4 linked regions of the Homo sapiens genome follow. The protein of the gene in region 1 interacts with the protein of each later gene in a biochemical or structural test. Each region holds a gene or a part of one and is shown in the gene's direction. Other genes may lie near its edges. The genes, in order: CLU, TGFBR1, LYZ and ELN.

Region 1 (7,026 bases):
CAGGAGTTTGAGACCAGCCTGGCCAAGATAGTGAGACCCTGTCTCTACAAAAATAAAAACTTAAAAAATTAGCCGGGTGTGGTGGTGCACACCTGTAGTCTCAGCTACTCGGGAGGCTGAGGCAAGAGAGTCACCTGAGCCTGGAAGTTGGAGGCTGCAGTGAGCTATGATTGCACCATTGCATTCCAGCCTGGGCAACAGAGTGAGACCCTGTCTGTAAATTAAAAAATAAATAAAAATAACAATAGGAATCAGTGGAGTCCATCTCTGCATGGCTGGATGACTGACTCTTCTTCCCTCGTGTGTCCCCAGAAGGCGACGATGACCGGACTGTGTGCCGGGAGATCCGCCACAACTCCACGGGCTGCCTGCGGATGAAGGACCAGTGTGACAAGTGCCGGGAGATCTTGTCTGTGGGTGAGTCGGGGTCCAGACCACAAGCCGTCCCCCCTGATCCCTTGTGTCCTGGGGTCACTGGGGCCTCACTGGTGCTGCCTTTATGGAGTCAGACAGATAAGCGTTTGGATTCCAGCTCTGCAGCCTTTGAGCTGTGTCCCGGGGCAGGTCCTGAGCCTCATGCAGCTTCGGTTCCTCATCTTAGAATGAGATGATGATGCGAGGCTGTCCCTGAAGTCGGTGAGATGTCGTTAGAGATGCAAAAGTGCCCTCCACCTGGTCGGCCCCATGTTGAAAAAAGCTTGTTGAAAAAAGTCATCCCCCTGGGACTCCCCGGTGATTCTGTTCCCAAGCGCCAAGCGCAGTAGGCATCTTCATTTTCCTCTGCAGATTATGACATTGCAGACAGTATGTGTTTTGTTTAACAAAACTGACCAGAGGCCAGGCACTGTTCTAAACACTCGACATACATTTCCTCATTTCCTCAGAATGACCCTCTGAGGAAACTGAGCCACAGAAAGGTTAATAACTTATCCAAGATTGACCCCGACATGGGCGAGCTGGGCTTCAATCCTAGGGCGCTGTGTTCTCTCCTGGGGCCCCTCGCAGCCTCTGGCCACAGAAGTCACGGGTCTCAGTACCTGGGCATCCAAGCAATAGTCCCTTTGGTCGGTTGGTTGGTCCCCTAGGCAAAGGGAATATTTCCCTTTAACTGTCCCCCTCCGTTTCACCAGCTCTGGTTATGGGTTAACTTCTTTCCACTTAGAGATAACAGCTGTGACAGTATTTGGACTAGTTCCTGGTACACAGCAGTTCATACTCACAAAGAGTTAATTGTTTCCCCTTGTCAACAGCTTATCGATCTGGTGGCTTTGCTCTTACTTAATGCTTAGTTTGAGTTTGCCATGGCAGGCCGCCAGGGTCTAGTTAAACATTCCTAGCCTCACTCCTATAATTTTAGAAGCCACTGCAAAATAAACAGTTGTGCTTTAACAGGCTGAAGTATAAGTTGCTGTAGATGAGTGCACAACCAGGCCTTGGGGCTTTTTCTATAAAAAATATCATAGAGTGGCATCAATTACATGGTACCTCACCACAAGAAAGTCATGTTAGGGTCTGAGAAAAGATGTCCAGATGCCTGTGCCCAGATTGGACCTCTTATGCTGATTTTTACTCTGTTGCCCAGGCTGGGCTCAGGTCTGGCGCCAATCTTAACAGTCATTGATTACAGTTGAGAGTGCAGCCAGCGCCAGTCTTATCAGTCATTGATTATAGCTGGCGTACAGTGGCTCTATCTCGGCTCACTGCGACCTCCGCCTCCTGGGTTCAAGTGATTCTCCTGCCTCAGCCTCCCAAGTAGCTGGGAGTGCAGGTGTGCACCACCACACCCAGCTAATTTTTGTATTTTTAGTAGAGACAGCATTTCACTATGTTGGCCAGGCTGGTCTTGAACTCCTGACCTCAAGTAATCTGCCCGCCTCGGCCTCCCAAAGTTCTGGGATTACAGGTGTGAGCCACTGTGCCTGACCTGAGATAGATTCTTAGAGAATTATTGGTAAGAATAATTCTCTAAGCTGAGCTAAATAGTCTACACTGAAGAGGACTGCCTACTGTTATTTAAGGTGCTTGCAACCATATAAGCACGTACTGCCTGGGAACTCTAGATGAGGATTTCTCAATTTCAGCGCTGTTGATTTTTTTTTTTTTTTTTGAGACAGGGTCTCTCTCTATCACCCAGCCTGGAGTGCAGTGGCACCATTACAGCTCACTGCAGCCTAGACCTCTTGGGCTGAAGTCATCCTCCTGCCTCAGCCTCCTGAGTAACAGACTACAGGTGTGCTCCACCATGCTTGGCTAATTTTTTTATTTTTAGTAGAGATGGGGTCTTGCTACATTGCCCAAGCTGGTCTCTAACTCCTGGGCTCAAGTGATCCTCCTACCTCAGCCTCCCAGAGTGCTGGGATTACAGGTGTGAGCAGTGCTGACATTTTGGACCAGGTCATTCTTTGTCGTTGGGGGCTGTCCTGAGCAGTTCAGGGTGTTTGGCAGCATTCCTGGCCTCTGCCCACTAGAGGTCAGCAGCTCCCTTCCCTTTGTTGTGACAACCAGCTTCAGAACTTGCTAAATCTCCCTGGGTGACAGCGTCACCCCAGTAGAGAACCTCTATTCTAGACTAAGCCTCAGCTCTCAAGGATTTTTCTTATTTTATTATTATTTTTTTAAGACAGGGTCTCGCTCTATCACCCAGGCTGGAGCGTAGTGGCGCAATCTTTGCTCACTGCAACCTCTGCTTCCTGGGTTCAAGCGATTCTCCTGCCCCAGCCTCCTGAGTAGCTGGGATTACAGGCGTGCACCGCCACGCCTGGCTAATTTTTATATTTTTAGTAGAGACAGGGTTTCACCATATTGGCCAGGCTGGTCTCAAACTCTTGACCTCAAGTGATCAGCCTGCCTCAGCCTCCCAAAGTGCTGGGATTACAGGTGTGAGCTAGTTTTTCTTATTTTTAAATTTTTTTTTGGTAAAATAATGAAGTTTATTTATTACATATTTATTTTCAAACTGGCATCTTGTTAGTAATTCTGTTTCTTTCCCCACCTAACATTTTGTTTACTATAAATGATTGCAGTCATCATCCTAAAGCATATGCAAAATCTCCCTTCCCCTGACTCACGTTTGATGTACCTGCCTCTGGATATTTTTGAAATACCTTAGGGGGAGAAAAACAGTAGTTTTAAGAGCTAGTGGACAGTTTCCAGGTCTTAATGAATCTGACAACCTGCAGCCCAGGGCCAAGAGGAATGAATTCTCTTTTCCCTGCTCTCTTGATGAACTCACTGACCAGCCATGGGCGGGCAGGTGGGCAGGCAAGGACCCCTGGCCACCAGGTGCCAGTGCATCAGCTGCATGAACTCCTGGCACCAGAACTGCCACCTCTACAGACATGCTCAAAAGACAAGTTTGGACCGGGTGCATTGGCTCACACCTGTAATCCCAGCACCTTGAGAGGCCGAGGTGGGTGGACCCCTGAGGTCAGGAGTTTGAGACCAGCCTAGCCAACATGGTGAAACCCTGTCTCTCCTAAAAATACAAAAAAATCACCCGGGGGTGGTGGCAGGCACCTGTAATCCCAACTACTCTGGAGGCTGAGGCAGGAGAATTGCTTGAACCCGGGAGGTGGAGGTTGCAGTGAGCTGAGCTCGCGCCATTGCACTCCAGCCTGGGAAACAAGAGCGAAATTCTGTCTCAAAAAAAAGACAAGCTTGGAGGATTGTCCAGAACCACAGATCCAGGGTAGGAAAAGCCCAAGCTTAGGAGCTGAAGACCCTGGTTCAATCCCGGGCCCAGAGATCATTTATTCTATGGCTTTAGGTAAGCTATTTATTGATACTTCTGTGGGCCTCAGTTTCATTATTGGTAAAAATTATTTCATTATTGGTAAAATTAGGACTTAAGTCCTAATCCTTAAGTCAGAACAGATCCAATTCTTAGAGAAAAAGGATATCCAGAGAGAACTTTCTGCGGTGTCTGGGACGAAGGCAGTGCCACACGAATGGCAGCTGTGAGTAATATTCCTCCTCTCTGGAAATGATTCCCGGGAGGGACTAGGGCAACGAGAGCCACTCCAGGTCTGAGAACATGGAGAACTTGAGATCAGTGCTTTTGGAAGTGTGGTCAACACAGTTTGTCACCAAAGAGATAAGGGTCTGGCACCCAAAGATAAATCAATGATGTTACGAAGCACACTGTTTAGGTCAGTTGGCGTATTTTTCCAGAGCAAGGCTTCTCAGGCTGGGCGTGGTGGCTCACACCAGTAATCCCAGCACTTTTTGGGCAGATGGGTTGAGCCCAGGAGTTCGAGACCAGCCTGGACAACACAGAGAAACCCCGTGTCTACAAAAAATACAAAAATTAGCTGGGCATGGTAGCATGTGCCTATAGTCCCAGCTACTCAGGAGGCTGAGGTTGGAGGACAGCCTGAGCCTGGGAAGTCAAGGCTGCAGTGAGCCGAGATCTCACCACTGTATTCCAGCCTAGGCAACAGAGCAAAACTCTGTCTCAAAAAAACAAAAACAAAAACAAAAAACCCAAAAGACTTTCTGGATGACGGAAGCAGTGTCTAGATTCACATTCTGAGGCAAAACCTTTATTTTGTCGTGGACAATTCCAGTTTGTGGCCCTTCCCTTAGGGAAGCACTGCTTTTGTTCCCGCTGCATGTGCTAACTTCCATTCATTCATGGTTCTATCCCTTTGTAGCCTTCCCTTCACACTTCTCACTTGCGTTTCTTCCATCTCTGGGCAGACTGTTCCACCAACAACCCCTCCCAGGCTAAGCTGCGGCGGGAGCTCGACGAATCCCTCCAGGTCGCTGAGAGGTTGACCAGGAAATACAACGAGCTGCTAAAGTCCTACCAGTGGAAGATGCTCAACACCTCCTCCTTGCTGGAGCAGCTGAACGAGCAGTTTAACTGGGTGTCCCGGCTGGCAAACCTCACGCAAGGCGAAGACCAGTACTATCTGCGGGTCACCACGGTGAGCTGTGTCCCGGCCACATGCTGTGGCTCGGGAGCCCGAGCTGTGATCGGGAGCAGGGGCATGTGTGCTTTTGACTGAGCATTTATCACACGGCAGAAAATAGAAAACTTTAGGCGCCCCTGTTGCCTTGAAGCCTCATCACCCACTCAGGGAAAATATAACCCTGCTTTACAAAGGAGCAAAGTAAGAGAGGTTCCACAGCTTGGCCAAGGTGTGATAGCTGACAGATGACTTGGACGGGTATTTGAACCTGACTGCCTGGCTGCCAAGCCTGTATTTTGTTGTTGTTGTTTTTGTTTTGGTGCACAAATCTGTGAATAAACCAGAAGCCTCTGTTCTTTTCTCAAAGCTACAAGGCTGCCCTCTGGCATGTAAAATGGCTTATGAATTAGTACATCACTCTCTGCCAGTGATAAAAACTTCTCTCTAGGCCAGACATGGTGGCTCATGCCTGTAATCCCAGCACTTTGGGAGGCAGAGGCAAGAGGATTGCTTGAGGCCAGGAATTTGAGACCAGCCTGGGCAACACAGCAAGATTCCCTCTCTACAAAAAATACAAAAATCAGTCAGGTGTGGTGGCACACACTTGTAGTCCCAGCTATTCAGGAGGCTGAGGTGGGAGGATTGCCTGAGCCCTGAAGTGGAGGCTGCAGTGAGCTGTGATCACGCCACTGCACTCCAGCCTGGGTGACAGAGTGAGACTCTGTCTCTTAAAAAATATATATATATAAAATAATAAAATAAAGTTAAAAAATCAAATAAAACTTATTTCTAGTACTGGGAACTCTTCTTTTTCTTTTCTTTCTTCCCTCCAGGCCCTCTGGATTCCTTTTCTACCCTACTCTGACCAAGGGCTGCTTCTAAAGCAAATGTTTGGAAACCACTTTTATTCTTTGGGGTGCTCCCTGGGCTGGTCATTTGCAGATGACATTTGCCCCAACACATGAGTGTCTGTGAACCAGGTCCGTTCTGTCCACTGAGCTGTACTTACGTCTAGATGTATAAGAAGCATGGGGTCAGCTCTCTAGGTTTCCTTGGAGAAGCAGGAGGACTTCCTTATCAGAAGCCTGACTTCTGTTGCAGAGCGCATGCATTTTGACCACAGTGTTTCAGCTCTTCCCTTTTCTCTTGTTCCATTTAGGTGGCTTCCCACACTTCTGACTCGGACGTTCCTTCCGGTGTCACTGAGGTGGTCGTGAAGCTCTTTGACTCTGATCCCATCACTGTGACGGTCCCTGTAGAAGTCTCCAGGAAGAACCCTAAATTTATGGAGACCGTGGCGGAGAAAGCGCTGCAGGAATACCGCAAAAAGCACCGGTAAGCAGGCGGGCCTTTCCTGCGGGCCTGCAGGGCCCAGTGAGTCTCTGGGAGCCACAAAAAAACAAACAAAGTGCAGACTCTATAGCCTGGTGGGAACGACTCCGCCCGGAGCCAGAGCCCAAGAACAAAGCCAGGAAGTTACGGGGGAATTTTATTTTTCCTTTGGAGGATGTTTTACTTTGGAGGATAACTGTTTTTTATTTCAGGGAGGAGTGAGATGTGGATGTTGCTTTTGCACCTACGGGGGCATCTGAGTCCAGCTCCCCCCAAGATGAGCTGCAGCCCCCCAGAGAGAGCTCTGCACGTCACCAAGTAACCAGGCCCCAGCCTCCAGGCCCCCAACTCCGCCCAGCCTCTCCCCGCTCTGGATCCTGCACTCTAACACTCGACTCTGCTGCTCATGGGAAGAACAGAATTGCTCCTGCATGCAACTAATTCAATAAAACTGTCTTGTGAGCTGATCGCTTGGAGGGTCCTCTTTTTATGTTGAGTTGCTGCTTCCCGGCATGCCTTCATTTTGCTATGGGGGGCAGGCAGGGGGGATGGAAAATAAGTAGAAACAAAAAAGCAGTGGCTAAGATGGTATAGGGACTGTCATACCAGTGAAGAATAAAAGGGTGAAGAATAAAAGGGATATGATGACAAGGTTGATCCACTTCAAGAATTGCTTGCTTTCAGGAAGAGAGATGTGTTTCAACAAGCCAACTAAAATATATTGCTGCAAATGGAAGCTTTTCTGTTCTATTATAAAACTGTCGATGTATTCTGACCAAGG
Region 2 (7,221 bases), on another chromosome or scaffold:
ATCAAAAAAAATGGAGTCTTTTTCCCCACCCTTTGAATTTGGGCTCAGCCCCAGTTCATGCCCAAACCAATGGGATATGGTAGAAGTGATGTTGTGCCAGTGGATGTTTTTTTGTTTTGTTTTGTTTTTGAGACAGGGTTTCACTCTTGTCACCCAGGCTGGAGTGCAGTGGTGTAATCATGGCTCACTGCAGCGTTGACTTTCTGGGCTCAAGCGATCCTCCAACCTCTCAGCTTCCTGAGTAGCTGAGACTACAGGTGTGAACCACTATGCCTGGCTAATTTTTGTATTTTTTGTAGATAAGTGGTTTTGCCATGTTAACCAGGCTGGCCTCAAACTCCTGGGCTCAAGCCATCGCCCCATCTTGGCCTCCCAAAGCGCTGGGATTACAGGCATGGGCCACCATGCCTGGCCGGTGCCAGTTCTAAACCTAGACTCAAGGCTCTTGCACGCTTTCATTCATTATCTTGGATAATGAATGTCATGTTATCAAGCCTAGGCTAGCCTGCTGGAGGATGAAAATCCACATGGAGGAGCTGATCTAGCTCATTACCCTCTTCCACCCCCTTCCACCTGACAACCGACTCATAAGTGAGCTCAGTGGAAATCAGCATAAATTGGCCTAAACCTGAAAAACTGTCCTACAGTCTCATGAAAGATGATATATGGTTATTATTCTAAGCCACTAAATTTTGAGGTGGTTTGTTTTTCAGTTAGGAGCACCAAGAATTAGCAATAGCTAATAATGGCAGAAGTCAATAATGTCTTGTAGGTTAGAAAATAAGATAGAAATAAAATATGCAACAATAAATAGGATGGACAAATGAGCAGAATAGAAGCATTCTAAGGTGAATAAAAATAGATTAATTTTTCTCATATAATAAGAAATAAGCATTATGGAGCTGGTGCAGTTATTCAAAGTGAATAAAAAATAGATTAATTTTTCTCATATAATAAGAAATAGGCATTATAGAGCTGGTGCAACTGTTCAGGAAATTTATCAAAAACCTAGACTCTCTCCATTTTTTCTCTCTACAGTCCTCAGTTTTGGCTATCGCCTTTATGTTTACAAAATGGCTGCTGTACCTCCAGGCATTGCAACTGTGTTCCAGGGAGAAAGAGAGAATATGATGAGTCTCTTCTTTTTTTAACTAGGAAGTATCTTTTGTACAGGCTCCGCCTTGTGGAAAGTAGATTTCTGTTTACATGTCACTGGCCAGAACTCTTGTCACATGGCCATACCTAGGTACAAGGAGCCTGGGAAATTGACATATATATTTTTTCTAGGTGATCTGCTTTCCCAAAGAAAAACAGGACTCCATTATAAAGCAAATGTAAGAATGGGTGTAGTTTAGATGACAAGCAGTCTCTGCTCTCTATTTTGGAGAAATCCTCTTACTTAAGGAACTAATCCAAAAGGAAAAGCAAACAATGTCCTTGGCATAAAGATTAAGAGACAACATTACACAGGGTACAAGGCACTGGAGTGAGACTCCTAGTCCTAGCTCTGCAGCTGACTTGCTGGGGAACTGATCCTCAGTTTCCTTCCCTTTAAATTAAGACATTGGAGTAAATAACATGTAAGCATTTTAAACAACAAGTAAGTCTGTAAAGACTGAAGGGAATTAACATTTATGACAGATTCCTTAATGTGCAATAGCTCATTTAGACCTCACAACAGTATCTCCCTTTACCCTGGGGGATGCTAAATCTCAAAGCAGTCAAATAGTGTTCCCAGACCCACATCTAGTGAGTGGCAGCCAGAATTTCAAGTCGGGTCTGTAGGCCTCCAAAGCCAGAGGCTTCTTTCTACTGCCCATCCAACCTTTCTCAAAAGGCAAATAAGGTCATGCATTTTTATTTACTGAATTTTAAGTAAAGCAGTGTCTTTTGAAGCGGGCCCAGTGCCACTTGCAGCAGAATCACCTGGGATGTCTATTACAAATGCAGATTCCTGAACCTTCTCCACATGAACTGAAGCAGACTTGCTAGGGCCGAGGGAGACCCAGGAATCTGTATTATTACAAGCTCTCCAGGTAATTGGAGAGACTTTACAATTTGGGAACCATGATTTTAAACTAATAATTTAGTGTTCCATTCTAGTGTAGTTTATTTATGGATCTGTGGCTCATGGAAATTTCCTCCTAGTATCAGGAAGATACAACTTAAAAATAGTCTGTTTTTCCTTCCTATTGTATCCACTGAATTCCACGGAAAATGTTAAGGAACTGGAGGTGTGATTAACACTGATTAATCTAGGCTCCGTACGTCAAAGGCACAGACTGACATGAACATACATGCTGATTAGAATCATACAGAGCTGGAAGGGGATGGGCAAAGAAATGGCATTAGCTAAATATTTACTATGTTCCAGACACTGTACCAGACACATTACGTCATTTAAGGGGCCCAAGACAAGTGATTCAATCCCTTTTATTTATAAACGGGGTAGGTACTATTATTATTTACATTTTAGAGATGAAGAAGCTAATGGCCAGAGAAAAACAGTCACTTTCTGAGATCATTCATTCATTCATACAATAAAAATCTCATTAGCTCTTATCTTATGAAAGACATTGCAAATAGAGCAGCAAAAAGGCAGTCTAGGGACCTCAGGTGGCACAAAGTCCACCAAATCTCCATTGAAGAAACTGGAACTGAGAGGGCAAATTGGGACTGGAGCCTGCCAGAAGCCATCTCTCTGGAATCCCTCAGCCTGAGCAAGAGGGGAGTTTGCTGCTGAGGCTGCTGGAGCTGCGGTGTAGAGCAAGTTGCAGGCCTCTGAGCCTGTTGGAGGTTCAGAAAGGTTAGCTGACTTGCTTAAGTAAGTGTCCTAGACAGGAGGGAGAAAGCGCGCGGGTCTCAGATCCCAGCTCCAATATCCACGCCTTTTCCCTTTTCATCTCCCGGAAGGAAGCCTTCACAGGTGGGGAAAATGCTCACCCAGTGACTCTAAAGTAGTGCACAAATTGGCATTAATCAGAACCATTCTGATTCCTGCTATCAAGGTTTATTTAATTCTAAGCTCAAATGACACAGAAAATAAAATTTCCTCCTTAAAAGGTTCTGCGGAAAAATATTCTCTGTTCTACGTAACAGCCTCCTTGGCTGTGTTTGTGTCTGAAGAAAGGACTAGTCTGACAGGAAGAATTACAAATCTGGAGCTCATTTTGGCGTCGCAGAGGGAAGGTGGGTGGAGCGTCTCGCAGTAAATTAGGAATTCAGAATGAAAACGTAGAGTTTATTTGGGTTTTTAGTGACACCTCAGGATTATTATACAGCAGTGTCAGACACAGCTCAAAGTAATGATGACTGCTCCCCCTCCGCCCCGCGGGAGCTGGGTGCTAAGAAGGGGGAACCCCTCCTTTGAGGGGTTGGGGTGGGGATCCTCCCTTTCCAACCTGGATCGGGAAGGGGTTTGAGAGGAGTGCGGCTTGGATCCCCATCCTGGATCTGTGCTGGAGGGAGGCGGGAGGCTATTTGGGGGTGTGTTTGGGCTCAGGATCTGGGTCTGACGCTGGGATCTGAGGACTTTCTGGGTTTGGAACTGGGTGGGGGAGCTGGGTTTGGGGTGACCGCTGGGAGCAGGAGGAAATAGGAGAGTGAGTCGCATGTGAAGGGCACTGAGGAGGGATCTTCGGGGGAATGCTGAAGTTGATGCGTGGACTTGGAGAGGGGAAGTTGAAGTGGATGCAGGGGCCTGGCGCTGCAGCGGATCTGGGTGGCATGTGCTGGGATTGCCAATGCGGAGCTGTGAATGGGGTCAGGGTGGGGCTGAGGCAGTACCAGATCTTCCGCGCCTAGAGGAGGTTAGAAGAAAAGAGCGTCGAACGGCCACAGCCTTTTTCCGAAAGAGACTCACACAGACACACCCATCGCTCTACCCGGCCCTCCGGGGCTAGCGGCTGAGCGGTGCTGGGGCTGGCAGACCCCGCCCCCACGCGGCCTCTCGGAGCCGGGAGCCGATCGGGCCGGGGCTGGGGTCTGGCGGCCCAGCCCCCGGGGAGCGTGGGGCGTGGCCAGAAACCGGCGCTCGCGGCTGCGGATTGGCTGCCTGGCGGGCCCGCAGGCGGGGCTCCCGGCTGGGTCCCGCTTGGCAGCTCGCGGCGGCGGGGAGGCGGGGCCGGCGGGAGCCCGGCAGCCAATGGACGCGCGTCCTCCGAGCAGTTACAAAGGGCCGGAGCGAGGCCGCCGCGGCGGCTAGGGAGGTGGGGCGAGGCGAGGTTTGCTGGGGTGAGGCAGCGGCGCGGCCGGGCCGGGCCGGGCCACAGGCGGTGGCGGCGGGACCATGGAGGCGGCGGTCGCTGCTCCGCGTCCCCGGCTGCTCCTCCTCGTGCTGGCGGCGGCGGCGGCGGCGGCGGCGGCGCTGCTCCCGGGGGCGACGGGTGAGCGGCGGCGCGGCGGGCGGGCGACTGCGGGGCGCGCGGGCCGGACCCGGCCTCTGGCTCGCTCCTGCTCTTTCTCAAACATGGCGCGGGGCCGGGGGCGCAGGTGGCGGCGCCGGGGCCCGGGCCGGGCTCTCGTGGCGCCGCGCGGCTCGGCGGCTGCCGGGCGAACCGCAAGCGGGGAGCGGAGGCGGGGCAGGGGCGTGTGTCCGGGCGCGGGCGGACGTGTCCGGCTGCCCGAGGCCGCCCCGCTCGGGACTCCCCGGGGAGGTGGAGTCGGGCGGAGTCGTCCGAGGTCCGGGGCTGCCCTCTGGGGTGTGAGTGGGCGAGGGCCAGGGGCGGAGAGTGCGAGGCCGGCGGGGACTGGCAGAGCCGTGGCTGCCCGCCGCCGCCCCCTGGGCACGGCGTGACCTTGTTCTGGGGACCCCCGCCCCAAGAGGGTCCGTGCCAGAGGCTGCCGAACCCGGGGCGGGGTTTGAGGTTGGGGTGGAAGGCGGCTCCCGGGCGGGGTGTGAGCTCCGAGCCTCTAGGGCTTCGTCCAGTGGGAGTCGGGGGCGACGTGTGGTGAGACCCCTGGGTCCGCAGGCCGCCCTGACTCCCGCCCGGCTCGACCCGAGCCGACCCTGCTGGAAGGGGCTGCTCCTCCAGCCAGGGGGGCTTTGTGTGAGAAGAAGGAAGCGCGGAGATGCGCGGAATGTTTCTTCTTTCGTGCGTCTGGGGAGTGTTGAAGTGAGTCCAGTAACCAGACGGCTACGGATTGTTTTCATAGTGGAAACTTGAACGTTTGCTCATTCTGCGGGTTTTGGAAATTTTGGGAACGACTGTGAATTGATTAAACGCTTTTTATTTCCTCGAAGGAACATCACTCACGTTGTTCCTTTTCTTGAGTGACAGTTAATAGTTTGATTCAGACATCTGTATAGCTGGTTTTCAAGGAAGACTGTTGGCTGGATTTTTCAAAATAGTAAATCAGGTTGGGGTAGGTGGTTGGTATCCACAAAGGGATGAGTGAAAAACTTCGTTAGCAGCTGAACTGAGACACTAGAAGCTAAAATACACAGCCTCAGTGTTAGCAACTAAAATGCAGTGAAAGTACATTTCTGTTTCTGAAACTGGACAAAAGATGTTGAAATTTTTTTAAAAAATCAAGACTGACGGTGACGATTATAATCAGTCCTAATAGCTACCGTCTATGTATTGTGCATTACTACGATGTAAATGCATACACTATTGTATAATTACATTATTTAATCACCACAAGTAAACTCCCAGGAGTAGTGGCATTTGCCCCACTTTACAGATGTGCAAAGTGGGGTACAGACACGTTAAGTACCCAATAACTTAAGTGCTAAAGCTAGGATTTTCACTCAGATCTCAGTTTCCCAAACCTGTATGTCATATATATATATAAATATGTATACATCATACTATCTGGCGTAGCCCATTTTTCTTCTTCAGTCGTCTGATGAGCAATTGGTCTTTATTATCCACTTTGGATTCTGTCCTCATGATTTGAGTATCAGATAGGCTTCATTCCGACTCTTAGCACATTGTTGAGTCCCTTCACGTGGGCCTGCATTAGAGGAAACAATGGATTTTTGACATTGGCCTAGGGAGGAAGGCAGGATAACTGTGTGGACATTTGGGAGAATCAGTATAGTTAGGCATGAAACACAGGTAACATTTCCACACCGCTATTAACTTGAATAACACAGTGCACTCTTTTCCACCAGAAGTAGCACAAGAAGCGTTCATGTATTCAAGTAACAGTAGTGGACTTAGTTGAAGACACAGAACATTGCTCAGTCCATGTCCTGGAGGAGTTTACAGTCTCCATGGTATGCACAAAATACAAAGCTGTCCAGGTGCTTATTACTCTAAGCCCAGACTGCCTCAGCTTGTCTGCCTCCCCTGTTGGTTATGATGATGCCTCAGTCCACCCTTAAAAAACATTCTGAAAAAGGTCAAATGCTTTTTATTTCCTCTGTAACTTGGCTTCCCTTTTAAAGACTTGCACCTTTTTATGTTCTGAGTATGTTTTAATGTTCTCTGCCCAACTTCTGTCTCCAACATAGGTTTCTCTAGGGAAATTGATTCCTTATCCCTAGTGCACAGTTTAGTACCACTATGTCTATATGTATATCCCATCTGAGAATGCTATTTGCTTCCTTTCTGCCATTTCATAACTTTTTTTCTTTGAAAACGTGCCCCCAATCCAACTCTTCTATGAATGCCTCTTGAATGTCTCCTCCTTTCTTGGTATGCAGCCTTCAGCTTAATCCTGCCTGTTATCCTCCAAATCTAGTTGCTTTCCCATGTTTTTCTCATCTAGGCTTTTCTATGGCTACTGCCAAACTAATCTTCCTCAGCCTTCCCCGTGAAGGTTTATAAGATTTCCCATTTGTATTCAGCACTTAGAACAACACTTAGCAGCTTATGATTGGGGCCATCTCTGAGTATCCTACCAGGGATCTCATTTCTCATTACTGCAGACCTTCGAGCAATTTCTCTTTCTCACTGACTCCTGACTGTTCAGCCTTTTCACTACACATTTAGTTTTGCCCCTTTTTTTGGGAGTGCGAGAAGTTCTCAGCCCTGACTTCCTGTGCTGGTTTAGTTCTTGAATTCTTTGTCTTCCAGAACTCTGCAACACTTAACAGTTTGTGTTGTCCATTTCTACTGCCTGTGCTGCTACTTAACTCTACTTGAATGCGTTATAGGTACCCAGAGGACAAGATTCATGCCATTTCTTTCTTTTGTGGCCTCAGAACTTAGCACTGTGTTTTATATTCTATTCCACATAAATGCTTGTTGATTTCTATTTGAGCATTCCTTT
Region 3 (6,853 bases), on another chromosome or scaffold:
AAGCTGAAAAAACATAATTGCACTGCTTCACTCCAGTCTGGACAACAGAGTGAGACCCTGTGATATAGTTTGGTTATTTGTGCCCATCCAAATCTCCTGTTGAATTATAATCCCCAGTGTTGGAGGTGGGGCCTGGTGGGAGGTGTTTGGGTCATGGGCGCAGATCCCTCGTGGCTTGGTGCTGTCCTGGTGATAGTGAGTGAGTTCTCACGAGATCTGGTTGTTGTAAAGTGTGGCCCCCGCCAACCCCCGGCAACTCTCTTGCTCCTGCTCCACCACGTGAAATACCTGTTCCTCCTTCACCTTCCTCCATAATTGTAAGCTCCCTGAGGCCTCTCCAGAAGCAGATGCTGGTGCCATGCTTCCTGAACAGCCTGCAGAACCATGAGCCAATTAAATCTCTTTTCTTATAAATTACCCAGTGTCAGGTATTTCTTTATAACAACATAAGAATGGCCTAACAGAGCTGCGTGCAGTAGCTCCTGCTTGTAATCCAAGCATTTTGGGAGGCTGAGGCAGGAGGATTGCTTAAGTCCAAGAGTCCAAGACCAGCCTGGGCAACACAGCAAGACTGTGTTTCTACTAAAAATTTAAAAAGTTGGCCAGGTGTGGTGGCACACACCTGTGGTCCCAGCTACTCGCCTGTGGTCCCAGCTACTTGGAAGGCTGAGGCAGGAGGATTGCTTGAGCCCAGGAGTTCACGCTGCAGTGAGCCAAGATTGTGCCCTTGCACTCTAGCCTGGGCAACAGAGCAAGACCCTGTCTCCAAAACAACAAAACAAAACAAAACTGGCCTAACACCCTATCTAAAAACAAAACAAAACAGAGGGCTATAGCACATTCTTTAGAATATCTTAAATTATGGCAAATCTCCATCTTTTCAGGATGGTTTTAGTTTTGGGGAATAGTCAAAAGTGTGAGAAACCCTTGGTCAAATTCCCTTTCCTAGGCCTGAAGCCCCCAACACTCACCATAAATAATTATTTTTCTCTATCTTGAGAAACAAATAAGTTGAGTAAATCATGACTATTGCCCATTGTAATACAACAAAGTAATCTAGGGTCTGTAAGCAACTTTCCTAAAAAGATAAAATGCATACATTGCATCAAAAAGAACATGCAGTACATACAAAATTTCTGAGGAAGAAAAATTATCTCTGCCCTCAAATCATGCTTACTTGCTATTTTATTTTTAAATAGATTGCTCATTAAACCTACCTCAAATGGAATGACAGGATTATAAATGGATGTTATAACTGCCCTTAACTTCTTCCCCAGGGGAGATAATTAAGGGGATCAAAAACACTTCTTCCCTTTGCAGTAGTCACATGATAACATGCTATCACTTTGGTTCAGGTTGGCAAGCAAATATTTGCTTGTTCCACTTCCAAGAAAGTATAAGGTCATAACTATTTAAACATTTGAAAACAAAAATTAATCTTATCAGCATAAGGCTGAAACCAGCATATGTAATAACTGGCTGTTCTTTAGTATTGAGTTGGGAACGGCATAAAGGGGACCAAAGACTAACTCTTTTTTTCCTTCTTTCTTTCTTTTTTTTATTTTTGAGACACAGTCTCACTCTAGTTGCCCAGGCTGCAGTGCAGTGGTACGATCTCAGCTAACTGCAGCCTCAACCTCCTGGGTTCAGGTGATCCTCTGACCCTCAACCTCCCGAGTAGCTGGGACTACAAGCACATTTTTAAATTTTTTTTTATTTTTAGTAAATATAGGGTTTTGCCATGTTGCCCAGGCTGGTCTCCAACTCCTGGTCTCAAGCAGTCCTCCTGCCTCGGCCTCCCATAGTGCTGGAAATACAGGCATGAGCCACTGCGCCCAGCCAAGACTAACTCTTTTAATTGGTTTCTGTCTCTTTGGGTCCTGAAAATCTGTCTCACTATTTATTATTATTATTATTATTATTATTATTTGAGACAGAGTCTCACTCTCTTTCCCAGGCTGGAGTGCAATGGCACAATCTCGGCTCACTGCAACCTCCGCCTCCTCGGTTCAAGCGATTCTCCTGCCTCAGCATCCCAGGTAGCTGGGATTATAGGCACCCACCACCACACCCAACTAATTTTTCTATTTTTCGTAGAGACGGGGTTTCACCATGCTGGCCAGGCTGGTCTCGAACTCCTGACCTCAGGTGATCAGCCTGCCTTGGGCTTTCAAAGTGCTGGGATTACAGGCATGAGCCACCGCAGCTGGCCATTTTTTTTTTCTTTCTTTTTTTTTTTTTTTTTTTTGAGACAGAGTCTCACTCTGTTGCCCAGGCTGGAGTGCAGTGGTGTGATCTCAGTTCACCACAACCTCCGCCTCCCGGGTTCAAGTAATTCTCCTGCCTCAGCCTCCCAAGTAGCTGGAATTATAGGCGCACCACCACGCCCAGCTAATTTTGTATTTTTAGTAGAGACGGAGTTTCACCATGTTGGCCAGGCTGGTCTTGAACGCCTGACCTCAGGTGATCCACCCACCTCAGCCTCCCAAAGTGCTGGGATTACAGGCATGAGCCACTGCACCTGGCCCTATTTATTATTGAAGAATCAAAATTAGGCCTAGCCTGAAAAATGAGATTATTCTTGATTTTTGAACAGGGTCCTTGAACTGTCATTTAAAACCAAATCTGGTAATCTTTAGAGGCCACTGATGAAAAATAAGGGTAACTACAAAGTGATGACACTTTGTGTGGCTCAGAATCTGTCCTCTTAGGCAGATACAGAAGTGCAGTTCTTTTTGAGTTCTGGTAGCATTGTTTTAAAAGCTGTGCACAGCCTCCTGAGATTGCTATTTTCAAAGGTAGCATTTAGTTGGATATATGTTTGGGTAGGTTTTATTTTTAAAATGCTGTTGCTTTCTAATGACCCCTTATGTTCTAATATGGAAAGGGGAGGCAAAGTATTGTGAAAAGTAGTTGGTAAAGTAGGCCGGATGTGGTGGCTCACACCTGTAATCCCAGCACTTTGGAAGGCCGAGGCGGGCGGATCACGAGGTCAAGAGATCCAGACCATCCTGGCCACATGGTGAAACCCTGTCTCTACTAAAAATACAAAAATTAGCTGGGCATGGTGGTACATGCCTGTAGTCCCAGCTACCTGGGAGGCTGAGGCAGGAGAATTGCTTGAACCCGGGAGGCAGAGGTTGCAATGAACTGAGATTGCGCCACTGCACTCCAGCCTGGTGACAGAGTAAGACTCCATCTCAAAAAAAAAAAAAAAAAGGTAGTTGGTAAAGTTGTTCACATGAACCTTATTTATAATAGTAAAACACTGATTTATAATAATAAAAAATTTGCTATAGTAACAAAAAGAGTCTAGAGTAAGAAACTAGCTGAGCAACGTGGTGTCACACTATACACCCATTAAGACAACAGGCACATGTGTCATGTCCATTTTGTGGAAAAGATATGTAAAATAATTTTAAGTAAAAAAGATAAATATAAAAAAGTGAATGCATACAAAACAATTTCACAAAATTGAATGTTACTCAAAAATCACAGCTCATTTTAAGCTGCACAAAATAGTCATTTTTTTCTTTATAATTGCTCAAATTCATAATCAAACAGAAGAAAGTTCCTGTCTTGGAAGTAGTGCTATGCCCCAATTCTTCCAGAGCCAGTACTTTAAACAATTCCATTTCATTATTTTCCTGTAGACTAATTCTTAGGACATCAGCATATCTCTCTTCAAGCATTAAAAAAATCTCTTTAGAGTCAGTGGATCAATAGACAGTTCCTGTTTTCCACACAACTGAAAGGGTGGAGCCCCCAAACCACAAGGGGAAGAAGGAAGTTAAAAGATGTTAAATACTGGGGCCAGCTCACCCTGGTCAGCCTAGCACTCTGACCTAGCAGTCAACATGAAGGCTCTCATTGTTCTGGGGCTTGTCCTCCTTTCTGTTACGGTCCAGGGCAAGGTCTTTGAAAGGTGTGAGTTGGCCAGAACTCTGAAAAGATTGGGAATGGATGGCTACAGGGGAATCAGCCTAGCAAACTGTAAGTCTACTCTCCATAATTCCAGAGAATTAGCTACGTATGGAACAGACACTAGGAGAGAAGGAAGAAGAAGAAGGGGCTTTGAGTGAATAGATGTTTTATTTCTTTGTGGGTTTGTATACTTACAATGGCTAAAAACATCAGTTTGGTTCTTTATAACCAGAGATACCCGATAAAGGAATACGGGCATGGCAGGGGAAAATTCCATTCTAAGTAAAACAGGACCTGTTGTACTGTTCTAGTGCTAGGAAGTTTGCTGGGTGCCTGAGATTCAATGGCACATGTAAGCTGACTGAAAGATACATTTGAGGACCTGGCAGAGCTCTCTCAAGTCCTTGGTATGTGACTCCAGTTATTTCCCATTTTGAACTTGGGCTCTGAGAGCCTAGAGTGATGCAGTATTTTTCTTGTCTTCAAGTCCCCTGCCGTGATGTGGGATTTTTATTTTTATTTTTATTTTATTTTATTTTATTTTTAAAGACAGTCTCACTGTGTGGCCCAGGCTGGAGTGCAGTGGCATGATCTCAGCTCACTGCAACCTCTGCCTTCTGGGCTCAAGTGATTCTCGTGCTTCAGCCTTCTGAGTAGCTGTGACTACAGGTGTGTACCACCACACCCAGCTAATTTTTTGTATTTTCAGTACAGATGGGGTTTCACCATGTTGGCCAAGCTGGTCTTGAACTCCTGGCCTCAAATGATCTGCCCACCTCAGCCTCCCAAAGTGGTAGGATTACAGGTGTGAACCACTGCACCCAGCCGACATGGGATTTTTAACAGTGATGTTTTTAAAGAATATATTGAATTCCCTACACAAGAGCAGTAGGAACCTAGTTCCCTTCAGTCACTCTTTGTATAGGATCCCAGAAACTCAGCATGAAATGTTTTATTATTTTTATCTACTCTACTTGATTAACTATCTTTCATTTTCTCCCACACAATTCAAGATGTGCCATGAGGAAAAGTTATTTTATAGTTTAGTACATAGTTGTCGATGTAATAATCTCTGTAGTTTTCAGATTGAATTCAGACATTTCCCCTCAATAGCTATTTTTGAATGAATGAGTGAAGGGATGAAATCACGGAATAGTCTTGTTTTCAAGATTCTAACTTGATATCCAAATTCACCTTTAGATATTATAAGAAAATTTCTATCAGAAAATCCTTATGTTTTTCTGATTAAAAAAAGCATTTTTCCATCAGCCTATGTATCTGCTATGAATTTACAAAATCTACTCAACAGCTCTGTTGATTTTTCTGTTCTTGGCTGAATGTTGCCTGAGGGATGGGAGCACGGGAAGGGTAAAAGCAATGGAACAAACATGTATTTTAATATTTTAAAAGTATGTTATATTGTTCGTTGGTGTTACAAGATGATTTGCATTACAAAAGGATTCTCTTACAAGTCCCTTATCTTAACACTAAAGTGCTAAGATATTTTATAAGTAAATCTTTATACTTATAAAACAAATCAGTAAAATAGAAGTAGCTAAGTAGAACTGATTTTGCTATAGAGTATAAGTCACTTAGTGTTGCTGTTTATTACTAAAAATAAGTTCTTTTCAGGGATGTGTTTGGCCAAATGGGAGAGTGGTTACAACACACGAGCTACAAACTACAATGCTGGAGACAGAAGCACTGATTATGGGATATTTCAGATCAATAGCCGCTACTGGTGTAATGATGGCAAAACCCCAGGAGCAGTTAATGCCTGTCATTTATCCTGCAGTGGTAAGACAAGCTAATATTTGACCAATCTGGTTATACTTACAAGAATTGAGACTCAATACAAATGAAAAAGCCTTGAAAGGTTCATGAGGGACCTAGAAAAACTACATCTCAACTTCCAGAAAGTCATTATTATTTTCCTCATAATTCCCTGAGTAAGAAATTAAAGAAGTGGTATCATAAAAGGTTGATGTTTTTTAATATACAGAAGTTTCTGGAATGACCTATTAATTTACTGTCAATGGCCTTACTGATGCTTTGTCCAGAACAATGCCATTGCTCCTGCTTACTTTGGGGAGGTTTTGGGATAATTTAGTTGTATGGTCCTTTTTCAATTGTTTTACTTTTTTTTTTATGAAATGTTCTAAATGTATAGAAAATTAGAGACATTAGTATAATAAACAGCCATATGCCCATTATGCACTTTAAAAGTTGTTAACATTTTGCCATAGTTGCTTCTTCTATGCCTTTTTTTTTTTTTTTTTTTTTTTTTTTTTTTTGCTGAGAGTTTTTTGTTTGGTTTTGTTTTGTTTTATTTTGAGACAGGGTCTCCCTGTCCCCAGGCTGTAGTGCAGTGGCACCATCACAGCTCACTGCAGCCTCAAGTGATCATCCCACCACAGCCTCCCAAGTAGCTGGGACTACAGGTGTGCACCACCATGCCTGGCAAATTTTTGAAATTTTTAGTACAGGCAAATTCTGTGTTGCCCAGGCTGGTCTTGAACTCCTGAGTTCAAGCAATCTTCCCACCTCAGCCTCCTTAAGTGCTGGAATTACAGGCGTTAGCCACTGTACCTGGCTACTGCTGAGAGACTTTTAAGTGAATTAGGAACATGATGATATTCCATTTCTAAATTCTTTAGTTTACATCTTCAAAAAATACAGTTCCTGTAGAATTATTATTGTAAATAACAAATTAACTTAAGGATTTATTTATTTGGAGTGAAACAAATATTTTACTGAACTCATAAAAATAGAAATACCATGTGGAATCCTCAGTGTCAAAAATATTGCAGAAATCTTGCAAAGTTGATATTATTAAATTGTTAAATATTAAAATTCCCAATAAAGAACATTAATCTTATTTCTAAAATCCAGTTAATTAAAAAAATTTATATTATATAATAATATTTGG
Region 4 (7,026 bases), on another chromosome or scaffold:
GGAGGGGTTCCCAGCAGGGCCTGCAAGGCCTGCCTTCCTACACTCACTGCTTTGTCCCCCGGCAGGAGCTCGGTTCCCCGGTGTGGGGGTGCTCCCTGGAGTTCCCACTGGAGCAGGAGTTAAGCCCAAGGCTCCAGGTATGCAGCTGTCTGGACAGAGGGCTGATGGCAGGGACTCTCCAACCACCTTCTGGCCCCGGGTGTGAAATGGGGTGGGATCCTGGACTGGCTCAGGGCCCTCTGGGTGACACTTTTTATGTTCCAGCCCTGGGCAGCCTGGTGCTGAAAAACCTCAGAGTGTGGCTGGGCACACTGGCTCACACCTGTAATCCCAGTATTTTGGGAGGGTGAGCTGGGAGGATCGCTTGAGCCCAGGAGTTAAAGACCAGCCTGGGCAACATAGCAAGACCTTATCTCTACAAAAACATGATTAAAAAATTAGCCGGACATGGTCACACACACCTATGATCCCAACTATTCAGGAGGCTAAGACAGGAGGATCTCTTGAGCCCAGGAGATCAAGGTTGTCGTGAGCTATGATCACACCACTGCACTCCAGCCTGGGCAACAGAGACCCCGTTCCCCCGCAAAATAAGAAAGAAAGAAAAGAGGGCCAGATGCAGTGGCTCATGCCTGTAATCCCAGCACTTTGGGAGGCCGAGGTGGGCGGATCACCTGAGGTCAGCCTGACCAACACGGTGAAGCCCTGTCTCTACTAATAATACAAAAATTAGCTGGGCGTGGTGGCCTGCACCTGTAATCCCAGCTACTTGGGAGGCTGAGGCGGGAGAATCGCCAGAACCTGGGAGGCAGAGGTTGCGGTGAGTTGAGATCACCCCATTCCACCCCAGCCTGGGCGACAAGAGCGAAACTCCATCTCCGAAAAAAGAAACCCCAGAGTTCATGTGAGCGCAGCATGCGATGACTGGTCTGGGAAGAACTGGCCATTCCTTGGGCCTCCTGGCCCCTTGGTGCTGTCTGGCCCAGTGTCCACAGTTCCAGGGCTGTAGTGACAGCTTTTTATCATTACAGGTGTAGGTGGAGCTTTTGCTGGAATCCCAGGTGAGGCAAGGCTGGTGGGAGAAGCAGGGTGGCCAGCCAGGCAGAGGCTCTGGCGTTGGGAGGGGTTGGGCACCCAAGATCCCATCCAAGCCTGCCCAATTTCTCCCACGCCTGCAGAGCCAGGTCTTGCAGTGGCTGTAGCACAAAGTGGCACCCATCCCAGGCCTGCTCCCCCCACTGGCATAGCAGCCCAAAATTCAAAGGAGTCCAGAAAACCCTCCAGCCTGTGCCAAGGGCTGCAGGCCCAAACTGGGGCCCAGGCCCCAGGAGGGAGAGAATCCCGTAGCTTCCTGGAGGAAGTGGCCTGTCACTGGGAATTTCTCAACTGACCCATGATGGAGATTCAGGGAGTCCCTCGAAGCAGGATGGTTTCTGGATGCTGTAGCAAGCTCCTTCTGTCTGAGCAGAAAGTGGAGTGGGTGGCGGAGGGTTTGGAAGGGGGTGCTGGGACCTGAACTTGCTCTCTTTATTCCCACAGGAGTTGGACCCTTTGGGGGACCGCAACCTGGAGTCCCACTGGGGTATCCCATCAAGGCCCCCAAGCTGCCTGGTAAGTCAGAGGGACGGTTCAAGATGCACCACTCGGCCGGGTGTGGTGGTTCACACCTGTAATCCCAGCACTTTGGGAGGCTAAGGCGGGCAGATCACTTGAGGTCAGGAGTTCAAGACTAGCCTGGCCAACATGGCAAAACCCCGTCCCTACTAAAGATACAAAAATTAGCCAGGTGTGGTGGCATAGGCCTATAATCCCAGCTACTGGGGAGGCTGAGGCAGGAGAATCTCTTGAACCCAGAAGGCAGAGGTTGCAGTGAACTGAGATCGCGCTACTGCACTCCAGCCTGGGTAACAGAGTGAGACTCTCCTCCAAAAAAAGAAAAAGAAGAAAAAAAAAATGTACCACTCACTGCACCTCCCTGCACAGAAGTCAGCCTGGGTACAGGTGTCTCTGGTGGCAGGGAAGGGGTGTTGAAGCCCCTGTATGGTCACCAGCCAAGGAGAGCATGGGAAAGTCATCTGCAGGTATTGAACTCACACACACACGCTCATGCACAGAGACCCATAGTCCCGATCTGAAGCTATTAGGCTGGTGGAAAGGAACACGGTTCATTGGAAAGATCCCTCTAACATCCACCCACTCGTGCTCCCGCCCCTACCTCTGCAATCAGCTTAGACAATAAGATGCTTTCCACTGAGGAGGGGGTGTAAGGAAAATACTCAGACTCCAGGGCCATGATGGGGCTTGAATTTGTAGGGGGATGGGTGTTCCATGGGCCTCGGGGGCAGAGGTGTCCTCTCCCTCCTTCACCCAGCGCCTTTGCTCTCCTGGGAGCAGCTCAGGACCCTGATGTGGGAGGTCTCAAGCTTTAGCACCTGTGGGGGTAGATCTGTCCACCCAGGTTGGTGGGAGCCCAGCAAGGCATGGGGCAGCCCCTGAGTTTGCTCTGTCCTCTCTCCAGGTGGCTATGGACTGCCCTACACCACAGGGAAACTGCCCTATGGTGAGTGAGACCCTTCTAGACTGTGGGCTTCCAGCTCTTTCCCTCTCCAGGGTCCTAGCAAGGGTGCTGTGCTTCCAGCCCTGGGCCAGGAGAGCACCTCGCTGGGGCAGGGTTGGGGTCTTGGAGTGGGAATCTCAGAAGGAAAGGGCATGGAATTTGGACTCAGCATGGGTCTCCATCCCTGCCCTCCCACCTATCAATAATGAGACCTTAAGTGAGCTGTGTTGCTTCTTTGAGCCTCTGTGTTCTCATCTGTAAAATGGACATAACAACTCCATACATGTGTTTGTATTTGTTTTCACTCTGGCTGGGGGTGACAGGTGCAGACTCAGGACAGCTTGGGCCCCGAGGGCAGAGCAGGGGGAGGGGGAGGGCAGCAGTGGTGATGTCTGCACAGATGACCATCAAGCCTCTCTGTTTTGCAGGCTATGGGCCCGGAGGAGTGGCTGGTGCAGCGGGCAAGGCTGGTTACCCAACAGGGACAGGTAAGGAAAGCCTCACGTCACTTCCAGCCAAGGGAGCACTGATCTTCCAGGCTCCAGAGCCCTGGGGTGGGTGAGGTTCCCTCCTGAAAGCAGCAGCCCACCCTGCATCCAGACCCTGGTCCAAACCTGGAGCAGGATCCTGGGGGAGGAGTGGGGCAGCTCCATCAGCCTCTGCCTACTCTGAAGCTCCCATGTATACCCACATGTCAGTGGATTGGCTCTCTTGGGGCTGGGAACAAGTGGGCTCTGGAGATACAGGAGCACTGTTTCAAGGTCTCTCCCCTCTGCTTCCTTCCCCCAGGGGTTGGCCCCCAGGCAGCAGCAGCAGCGGCAGCTAAAGCAGCAGCAAAGTTCGGTGAGTGCCCCTGGAGTCCCCACCTGGTGGCCTCCAGGCCCCTAGCCTCTCCATTCCCATTACTATTGACAGCCTGCCTCCAAAGTGGCCCCTACATACCCCCATTTACTCAAAATTTTCAACATCACCCATCTATCTATCCCTCCCTCCAACCATTCTTCCATGCATCCATGTATCCATTCATCCTTCCATCAATCTATTACTTTCTCCATCCCTCCCTCCATCCATTCCCATTCCTCCATGCATCCATCTATCCATCCATCCATTCATGTACTCATCTGCCCATCCATGCATCCATCCACTCATCCGTCCATTCATTCATCCATCCATCTCTCCCTCCATCCATTCATCCATCCATCCATCCATTCCTCCATGCATCCATCTATCCATCCATCCACTTATCTATCCATTCATCTACTTATTTACACATCCATGCATCCATCCATCCATCCACTCATCCATCCACTCATTCATCCATCCATCTCTCCCTCCATCCATTCATCCATCCATCTATCCATCCATCCATCCATCCATCCATCCATCCATTTCTCCATGGATCCATCTATCCATCCATCTGTCCACACATCCATCCATCCATTTATCCATCCACCCACTCATCCATCTATCCATTCATCCACCCATCCATCACTACCTCCCTCCATTCATCCATCCTCCATTCCTCCATGCAGCCATCTATCCATCCATCCATCCACTTATCCACCCATTCATCCATCCATCAATCCCTCCCTCCATCCATTCTTCCATCCATCAATCCCTCCCTCCATCCATTCTTCCATCCATCCATCCACGCATCCATCCATTCCTCCATGCATCCATCCATCTATGCACCCATCCATCCATCCCCTCATCCATCCATCCATTTATCCATCCATCACTCCCTCGCTCCATTCATCCATCCACCATCTATCCATCTATTCCCCCATATACCCATTCATCCATCCAACCATTCCTCCATGCATCCATCTATCCCTCCATCCATTCCTCTAGGCACCCATCCATCCATTTCTCCATGCATGCATCCATCCTTCCATCCATCCTTCCATCCATCCATCCACCATCTATTCCTCCATGCATCCATTCATCCATCCATCCATTCCTCCATGCATTCATCCTTCCATCCATCCATCCACCCATCAATTCTTCCCTCCATCCATTCTTCCCTCTATCCATCCACTCATCCATCCATTCTTCCCTCTATCCGTCCACTCATCCATCCATTCCTCCATGCATCCATTCCTCCATGCATCCATCTATCCATCCATCCATTCATCCATCCACTCATCCATCCATCCATTTACCCATCCATCCACTCAATCCATCCATCCATCCATCCATACATCAATCCATACATCAATCCACCCATCCATCACTCCCTCCATCGATTCTTCCATCCATCCATCTGCCCATTCTTCCATGCATCCCTCCATCCATTCCTCCATGCACCCACCCATCCATTTCTCCATGCATGCATCCATCCTTCCATCCATTCATCCATCCATCCATCCATCCATCTATTCCTCCATGCATCCATCCACCCATCCATCCATTTCTCCATGCATCCTTCCATCCATCCATCCATCCATCCATCCATCCATCCACTCACCCATCTATCCATCCATCCATCCATCTACCCATCAATTCTTCCTTCCATCCATTCTTCCCTCTATCCATCCACTCATTCATCCATTCTTCCCTCTATCCATCCACTCATCCATCCATTCCTCCATGCATCCATTCCTCCATGCATCCATCTATCCATCCATCCATTCATCCATCCACTCATCCATCCATCCATTTACCCATCCATCCACTCGTCCATCCATCCATCCATCCATCCATCCATCAATCCATCTATCCATCACTCCCTCCATTGATTCTTCCATCCATCCATCCATCCATCTGCCCATTCTTCCGTGCATCCCTCCATCCATTCCTCCATGCACCCATCCATCCATTTCTCCATGCATGCATCCATCCATCCATCCATTCCTCCATGCATCCATGCACCCATCCATCCATTCACCCATGCATTCATTCATTCATTCATTCATTCATTCATTCATTCTTTCCTCCATGCATTCATCCATGCCTCCTTCCTTCCCTCCCTCACTGCCTCCTCCCACCCATCCATATCAGAGATCAGGGACAAACAAGAGTTCTCTTAGAGAATATAGCCACTGTTGTGGGAGTCAAGAAACGGGAGGCATTTTTTTCTACCTGAGGAAAGTTAGAAAGGCTTCCCAGAGAAAGTGACATGTGATTTAGGCCTTAAAAATAAAGATGGAGCTTACCATGTGGTTAAAACAGGAAAGAGGAGGCCAAGCAGAGGGAATGGGTACCACGGTGGTTAGAAAGATAATTTTAGGTGGTGCATATATAAGCATTTAAAATATTTAATAGTTATGTATCAATTTAATGTGTACTATAAAAATGTTAACTCACTGCTCAGGTCAGTGAGTTCTTGGCTAGCATGGCTGCAGATGGAACGTGGTATTCCTGTGCCCGTGCAGTGGGTGGAGTGGGCATCTGTCCCCTGCCCCAGGTAGTGCCCACCTCAGGGTCAGACCACTAGGGCTGAAGTCCTCCTTCATCCTCAGCCCCAGGGAAGCCCTTTCCTTATCTCCCCACCAGCCCGAGAGAGCGAGAATGTGGGGAGAAGCCTGAAGCTGGGCCTCCCAGTGGAGGCCCCGCAGGCCCCCCTCCCAGCACCCGAGGCTCCTTGGCCCCAGCGGCTGGTGGGGACGGCTGCAATGTGGGAGCGGGAGAGCAGGGCTGTGAGGGGCTGCCAGAGCCAAGCAGCCAGGCGCTTGGATTACAAACTTGGCTGCATCTTCGGAACACAGGGAGAGGAAGTCTTGAACATTCCTGCAGGGGACCCTCTGGCCCAGGGAGCGGCCACTTGTGGTTTCTCAGTATGTGGCAGTGATTAGAATGGGATTTGTCTGAAAACATACAAGTCCCTTAATGAGTGTGTTGAAATGGACACTTTGGGGGAGAGTCAAGGAACAGTGGAGTGGGGTGGGGGCCTCCCCAGACAGGCCCATCTGGAGACACCCGGGCCCCATTCCTGGATAAGATCACACTGGTGAAAACGCCGGCGTCTAAGTGGCCATCCTGCCTGTCCTCAGGAGGGTCCTTGGGAAACTACATTGCACTGTCCCCATCTCAACAGGTGCTGGAGCAGCCGGAGTCCTCCCTGGTGTTGGAGGGGCTGGTGTTCCTGGCGTGCCTGGGGCAATTCCTGGAATTGGAGGCATCGCAGGTAACATCTGTCCCAGCAGGGGGCGGGTGTGTCCTTGAGATGGCCACAGGGCAAGGACCTCACCCTCTGTGGCTGTGTTTTCAGGCGTTGGGACTCCAGCTGCAGCTGCAGCTGCAGCAGCAGCCGCTAAGGCAGCCAAGTATGGTGAGTGCCTCCCGGGGTGGCAAGTCCACGGCTCGGGCCCCTGCATAGACCTCGGAGACCCTAGCCGCAAAGCCAGATGGACTTGGCCTTTGTTCCTTCCCAAATATGCATTGTTCATGCCTCCTTACCTTTGCCCCTTCTGATCACTCTACCTGAGATGCCATCTCTATTGTTTTGCCCTGATTAACTCAGCAGAGGG

Evidence for each region.
Region 2: the proteins of CLU (region 1) and TGFBR1 form a complex in vitro, tested with the Homo sapiens proteins (one study listed by BioGRID).
Region 3: the proteins of CLU (region 1) and LYZ form a complex in vitro, tested with the Homo sapiens proteins (one study listed by BioGRID).
Region 4: the proteins of CLU (region 1) and ELN form a complex in vitro, tested with the Homo sapiens proteins (one study listed by BioGRID).

The regions. Positions count from the first base shown.
Region 1 is NC_000008.11:27,597,682-27,604,707, reverse strand, and holds part of CLU (clusterin isoform 1 preproprotein), read left to right. Parts: intron 1-312; coding exon 313-417; intron 418-4,698; coding exon 4,699-4,928; intron 4,929-6,072; coding exon 6,073-6,248; intron 6,249-6,457; coding exon 6,458-6,467; 3' UTR 6,468-7,026.
Region 2 is NC_000009.12:99,100,918-99,108,138, forward strand, and holds the start of TGFBR1 (TGF-beta receptor type-1 isoform 1 precursor), read left to right. Parts: upstream 1-4,195; 5' UTR 4,196-4,288; coding exon 4,289-4,385; intron 4,386-4,657; exon of another isoform or gene 4,658-4,680; intron 4,681-4,896; exon of another isoform or gene 4,897-5,114; intron 5,115-6,118; exon of another isoform or gene 6,119-6,223; intron 6,224-7,221. UniProt on the Homo sapiens protein: Transmembrane serine/threonine kinase forming with the TGF-beta type II serine/threonine kinase receptor, TGFBR2, the non-promiscuous receptor for the TGF-beta cytokines TGFB1, TGFB2 and TGFB3.
Region 3 is NC_000012.12:69,344,552-69,351,404, forward strand, and holds the start of LYZ (lysozyme C precursor), read left to right. Parts: upstream 1-3,829; 5' UTR 3,830-3,857; coding exon 3,858-3,993; intron 3,994-5,556; coding exon 5,557-5,721; intron 5,722-6,853. UniProt on the Homo sapiens protein: Lysozymes have primarily a bacteriolytic function; those in tissues and body fluids are associated with the monocyte-macrophage system and enhance the activity of immunoagents.
Region 4 is NC_000007.14:74,045,157-74,052,182, forward strand, and holds part of ELN (elastin isoform a precursor), read left to right. Parts: intron 1-65; coding exon 66-137; intron 138-1,031; coding exon 1,032-1,061; intron 1,062-1,539; coding exon 1,540-1,611; intron 1,612-2,518; coding exon 2,519-2,560; intron 2,561-2,985; coding exon 2,986-3,045; intron 3,046-3,346; coding exon 3,347-3,400; intron 3,401-6,593; coding exon 6,594-6,683; intron 6,684-6,767; coding exon 6,768-6,827; intron 6,828-7,026. UniProt on the Homo sapiens protein: Major structural protein of tissues such as aorta and nuchal ligament, which must expand rapidly and recover completely.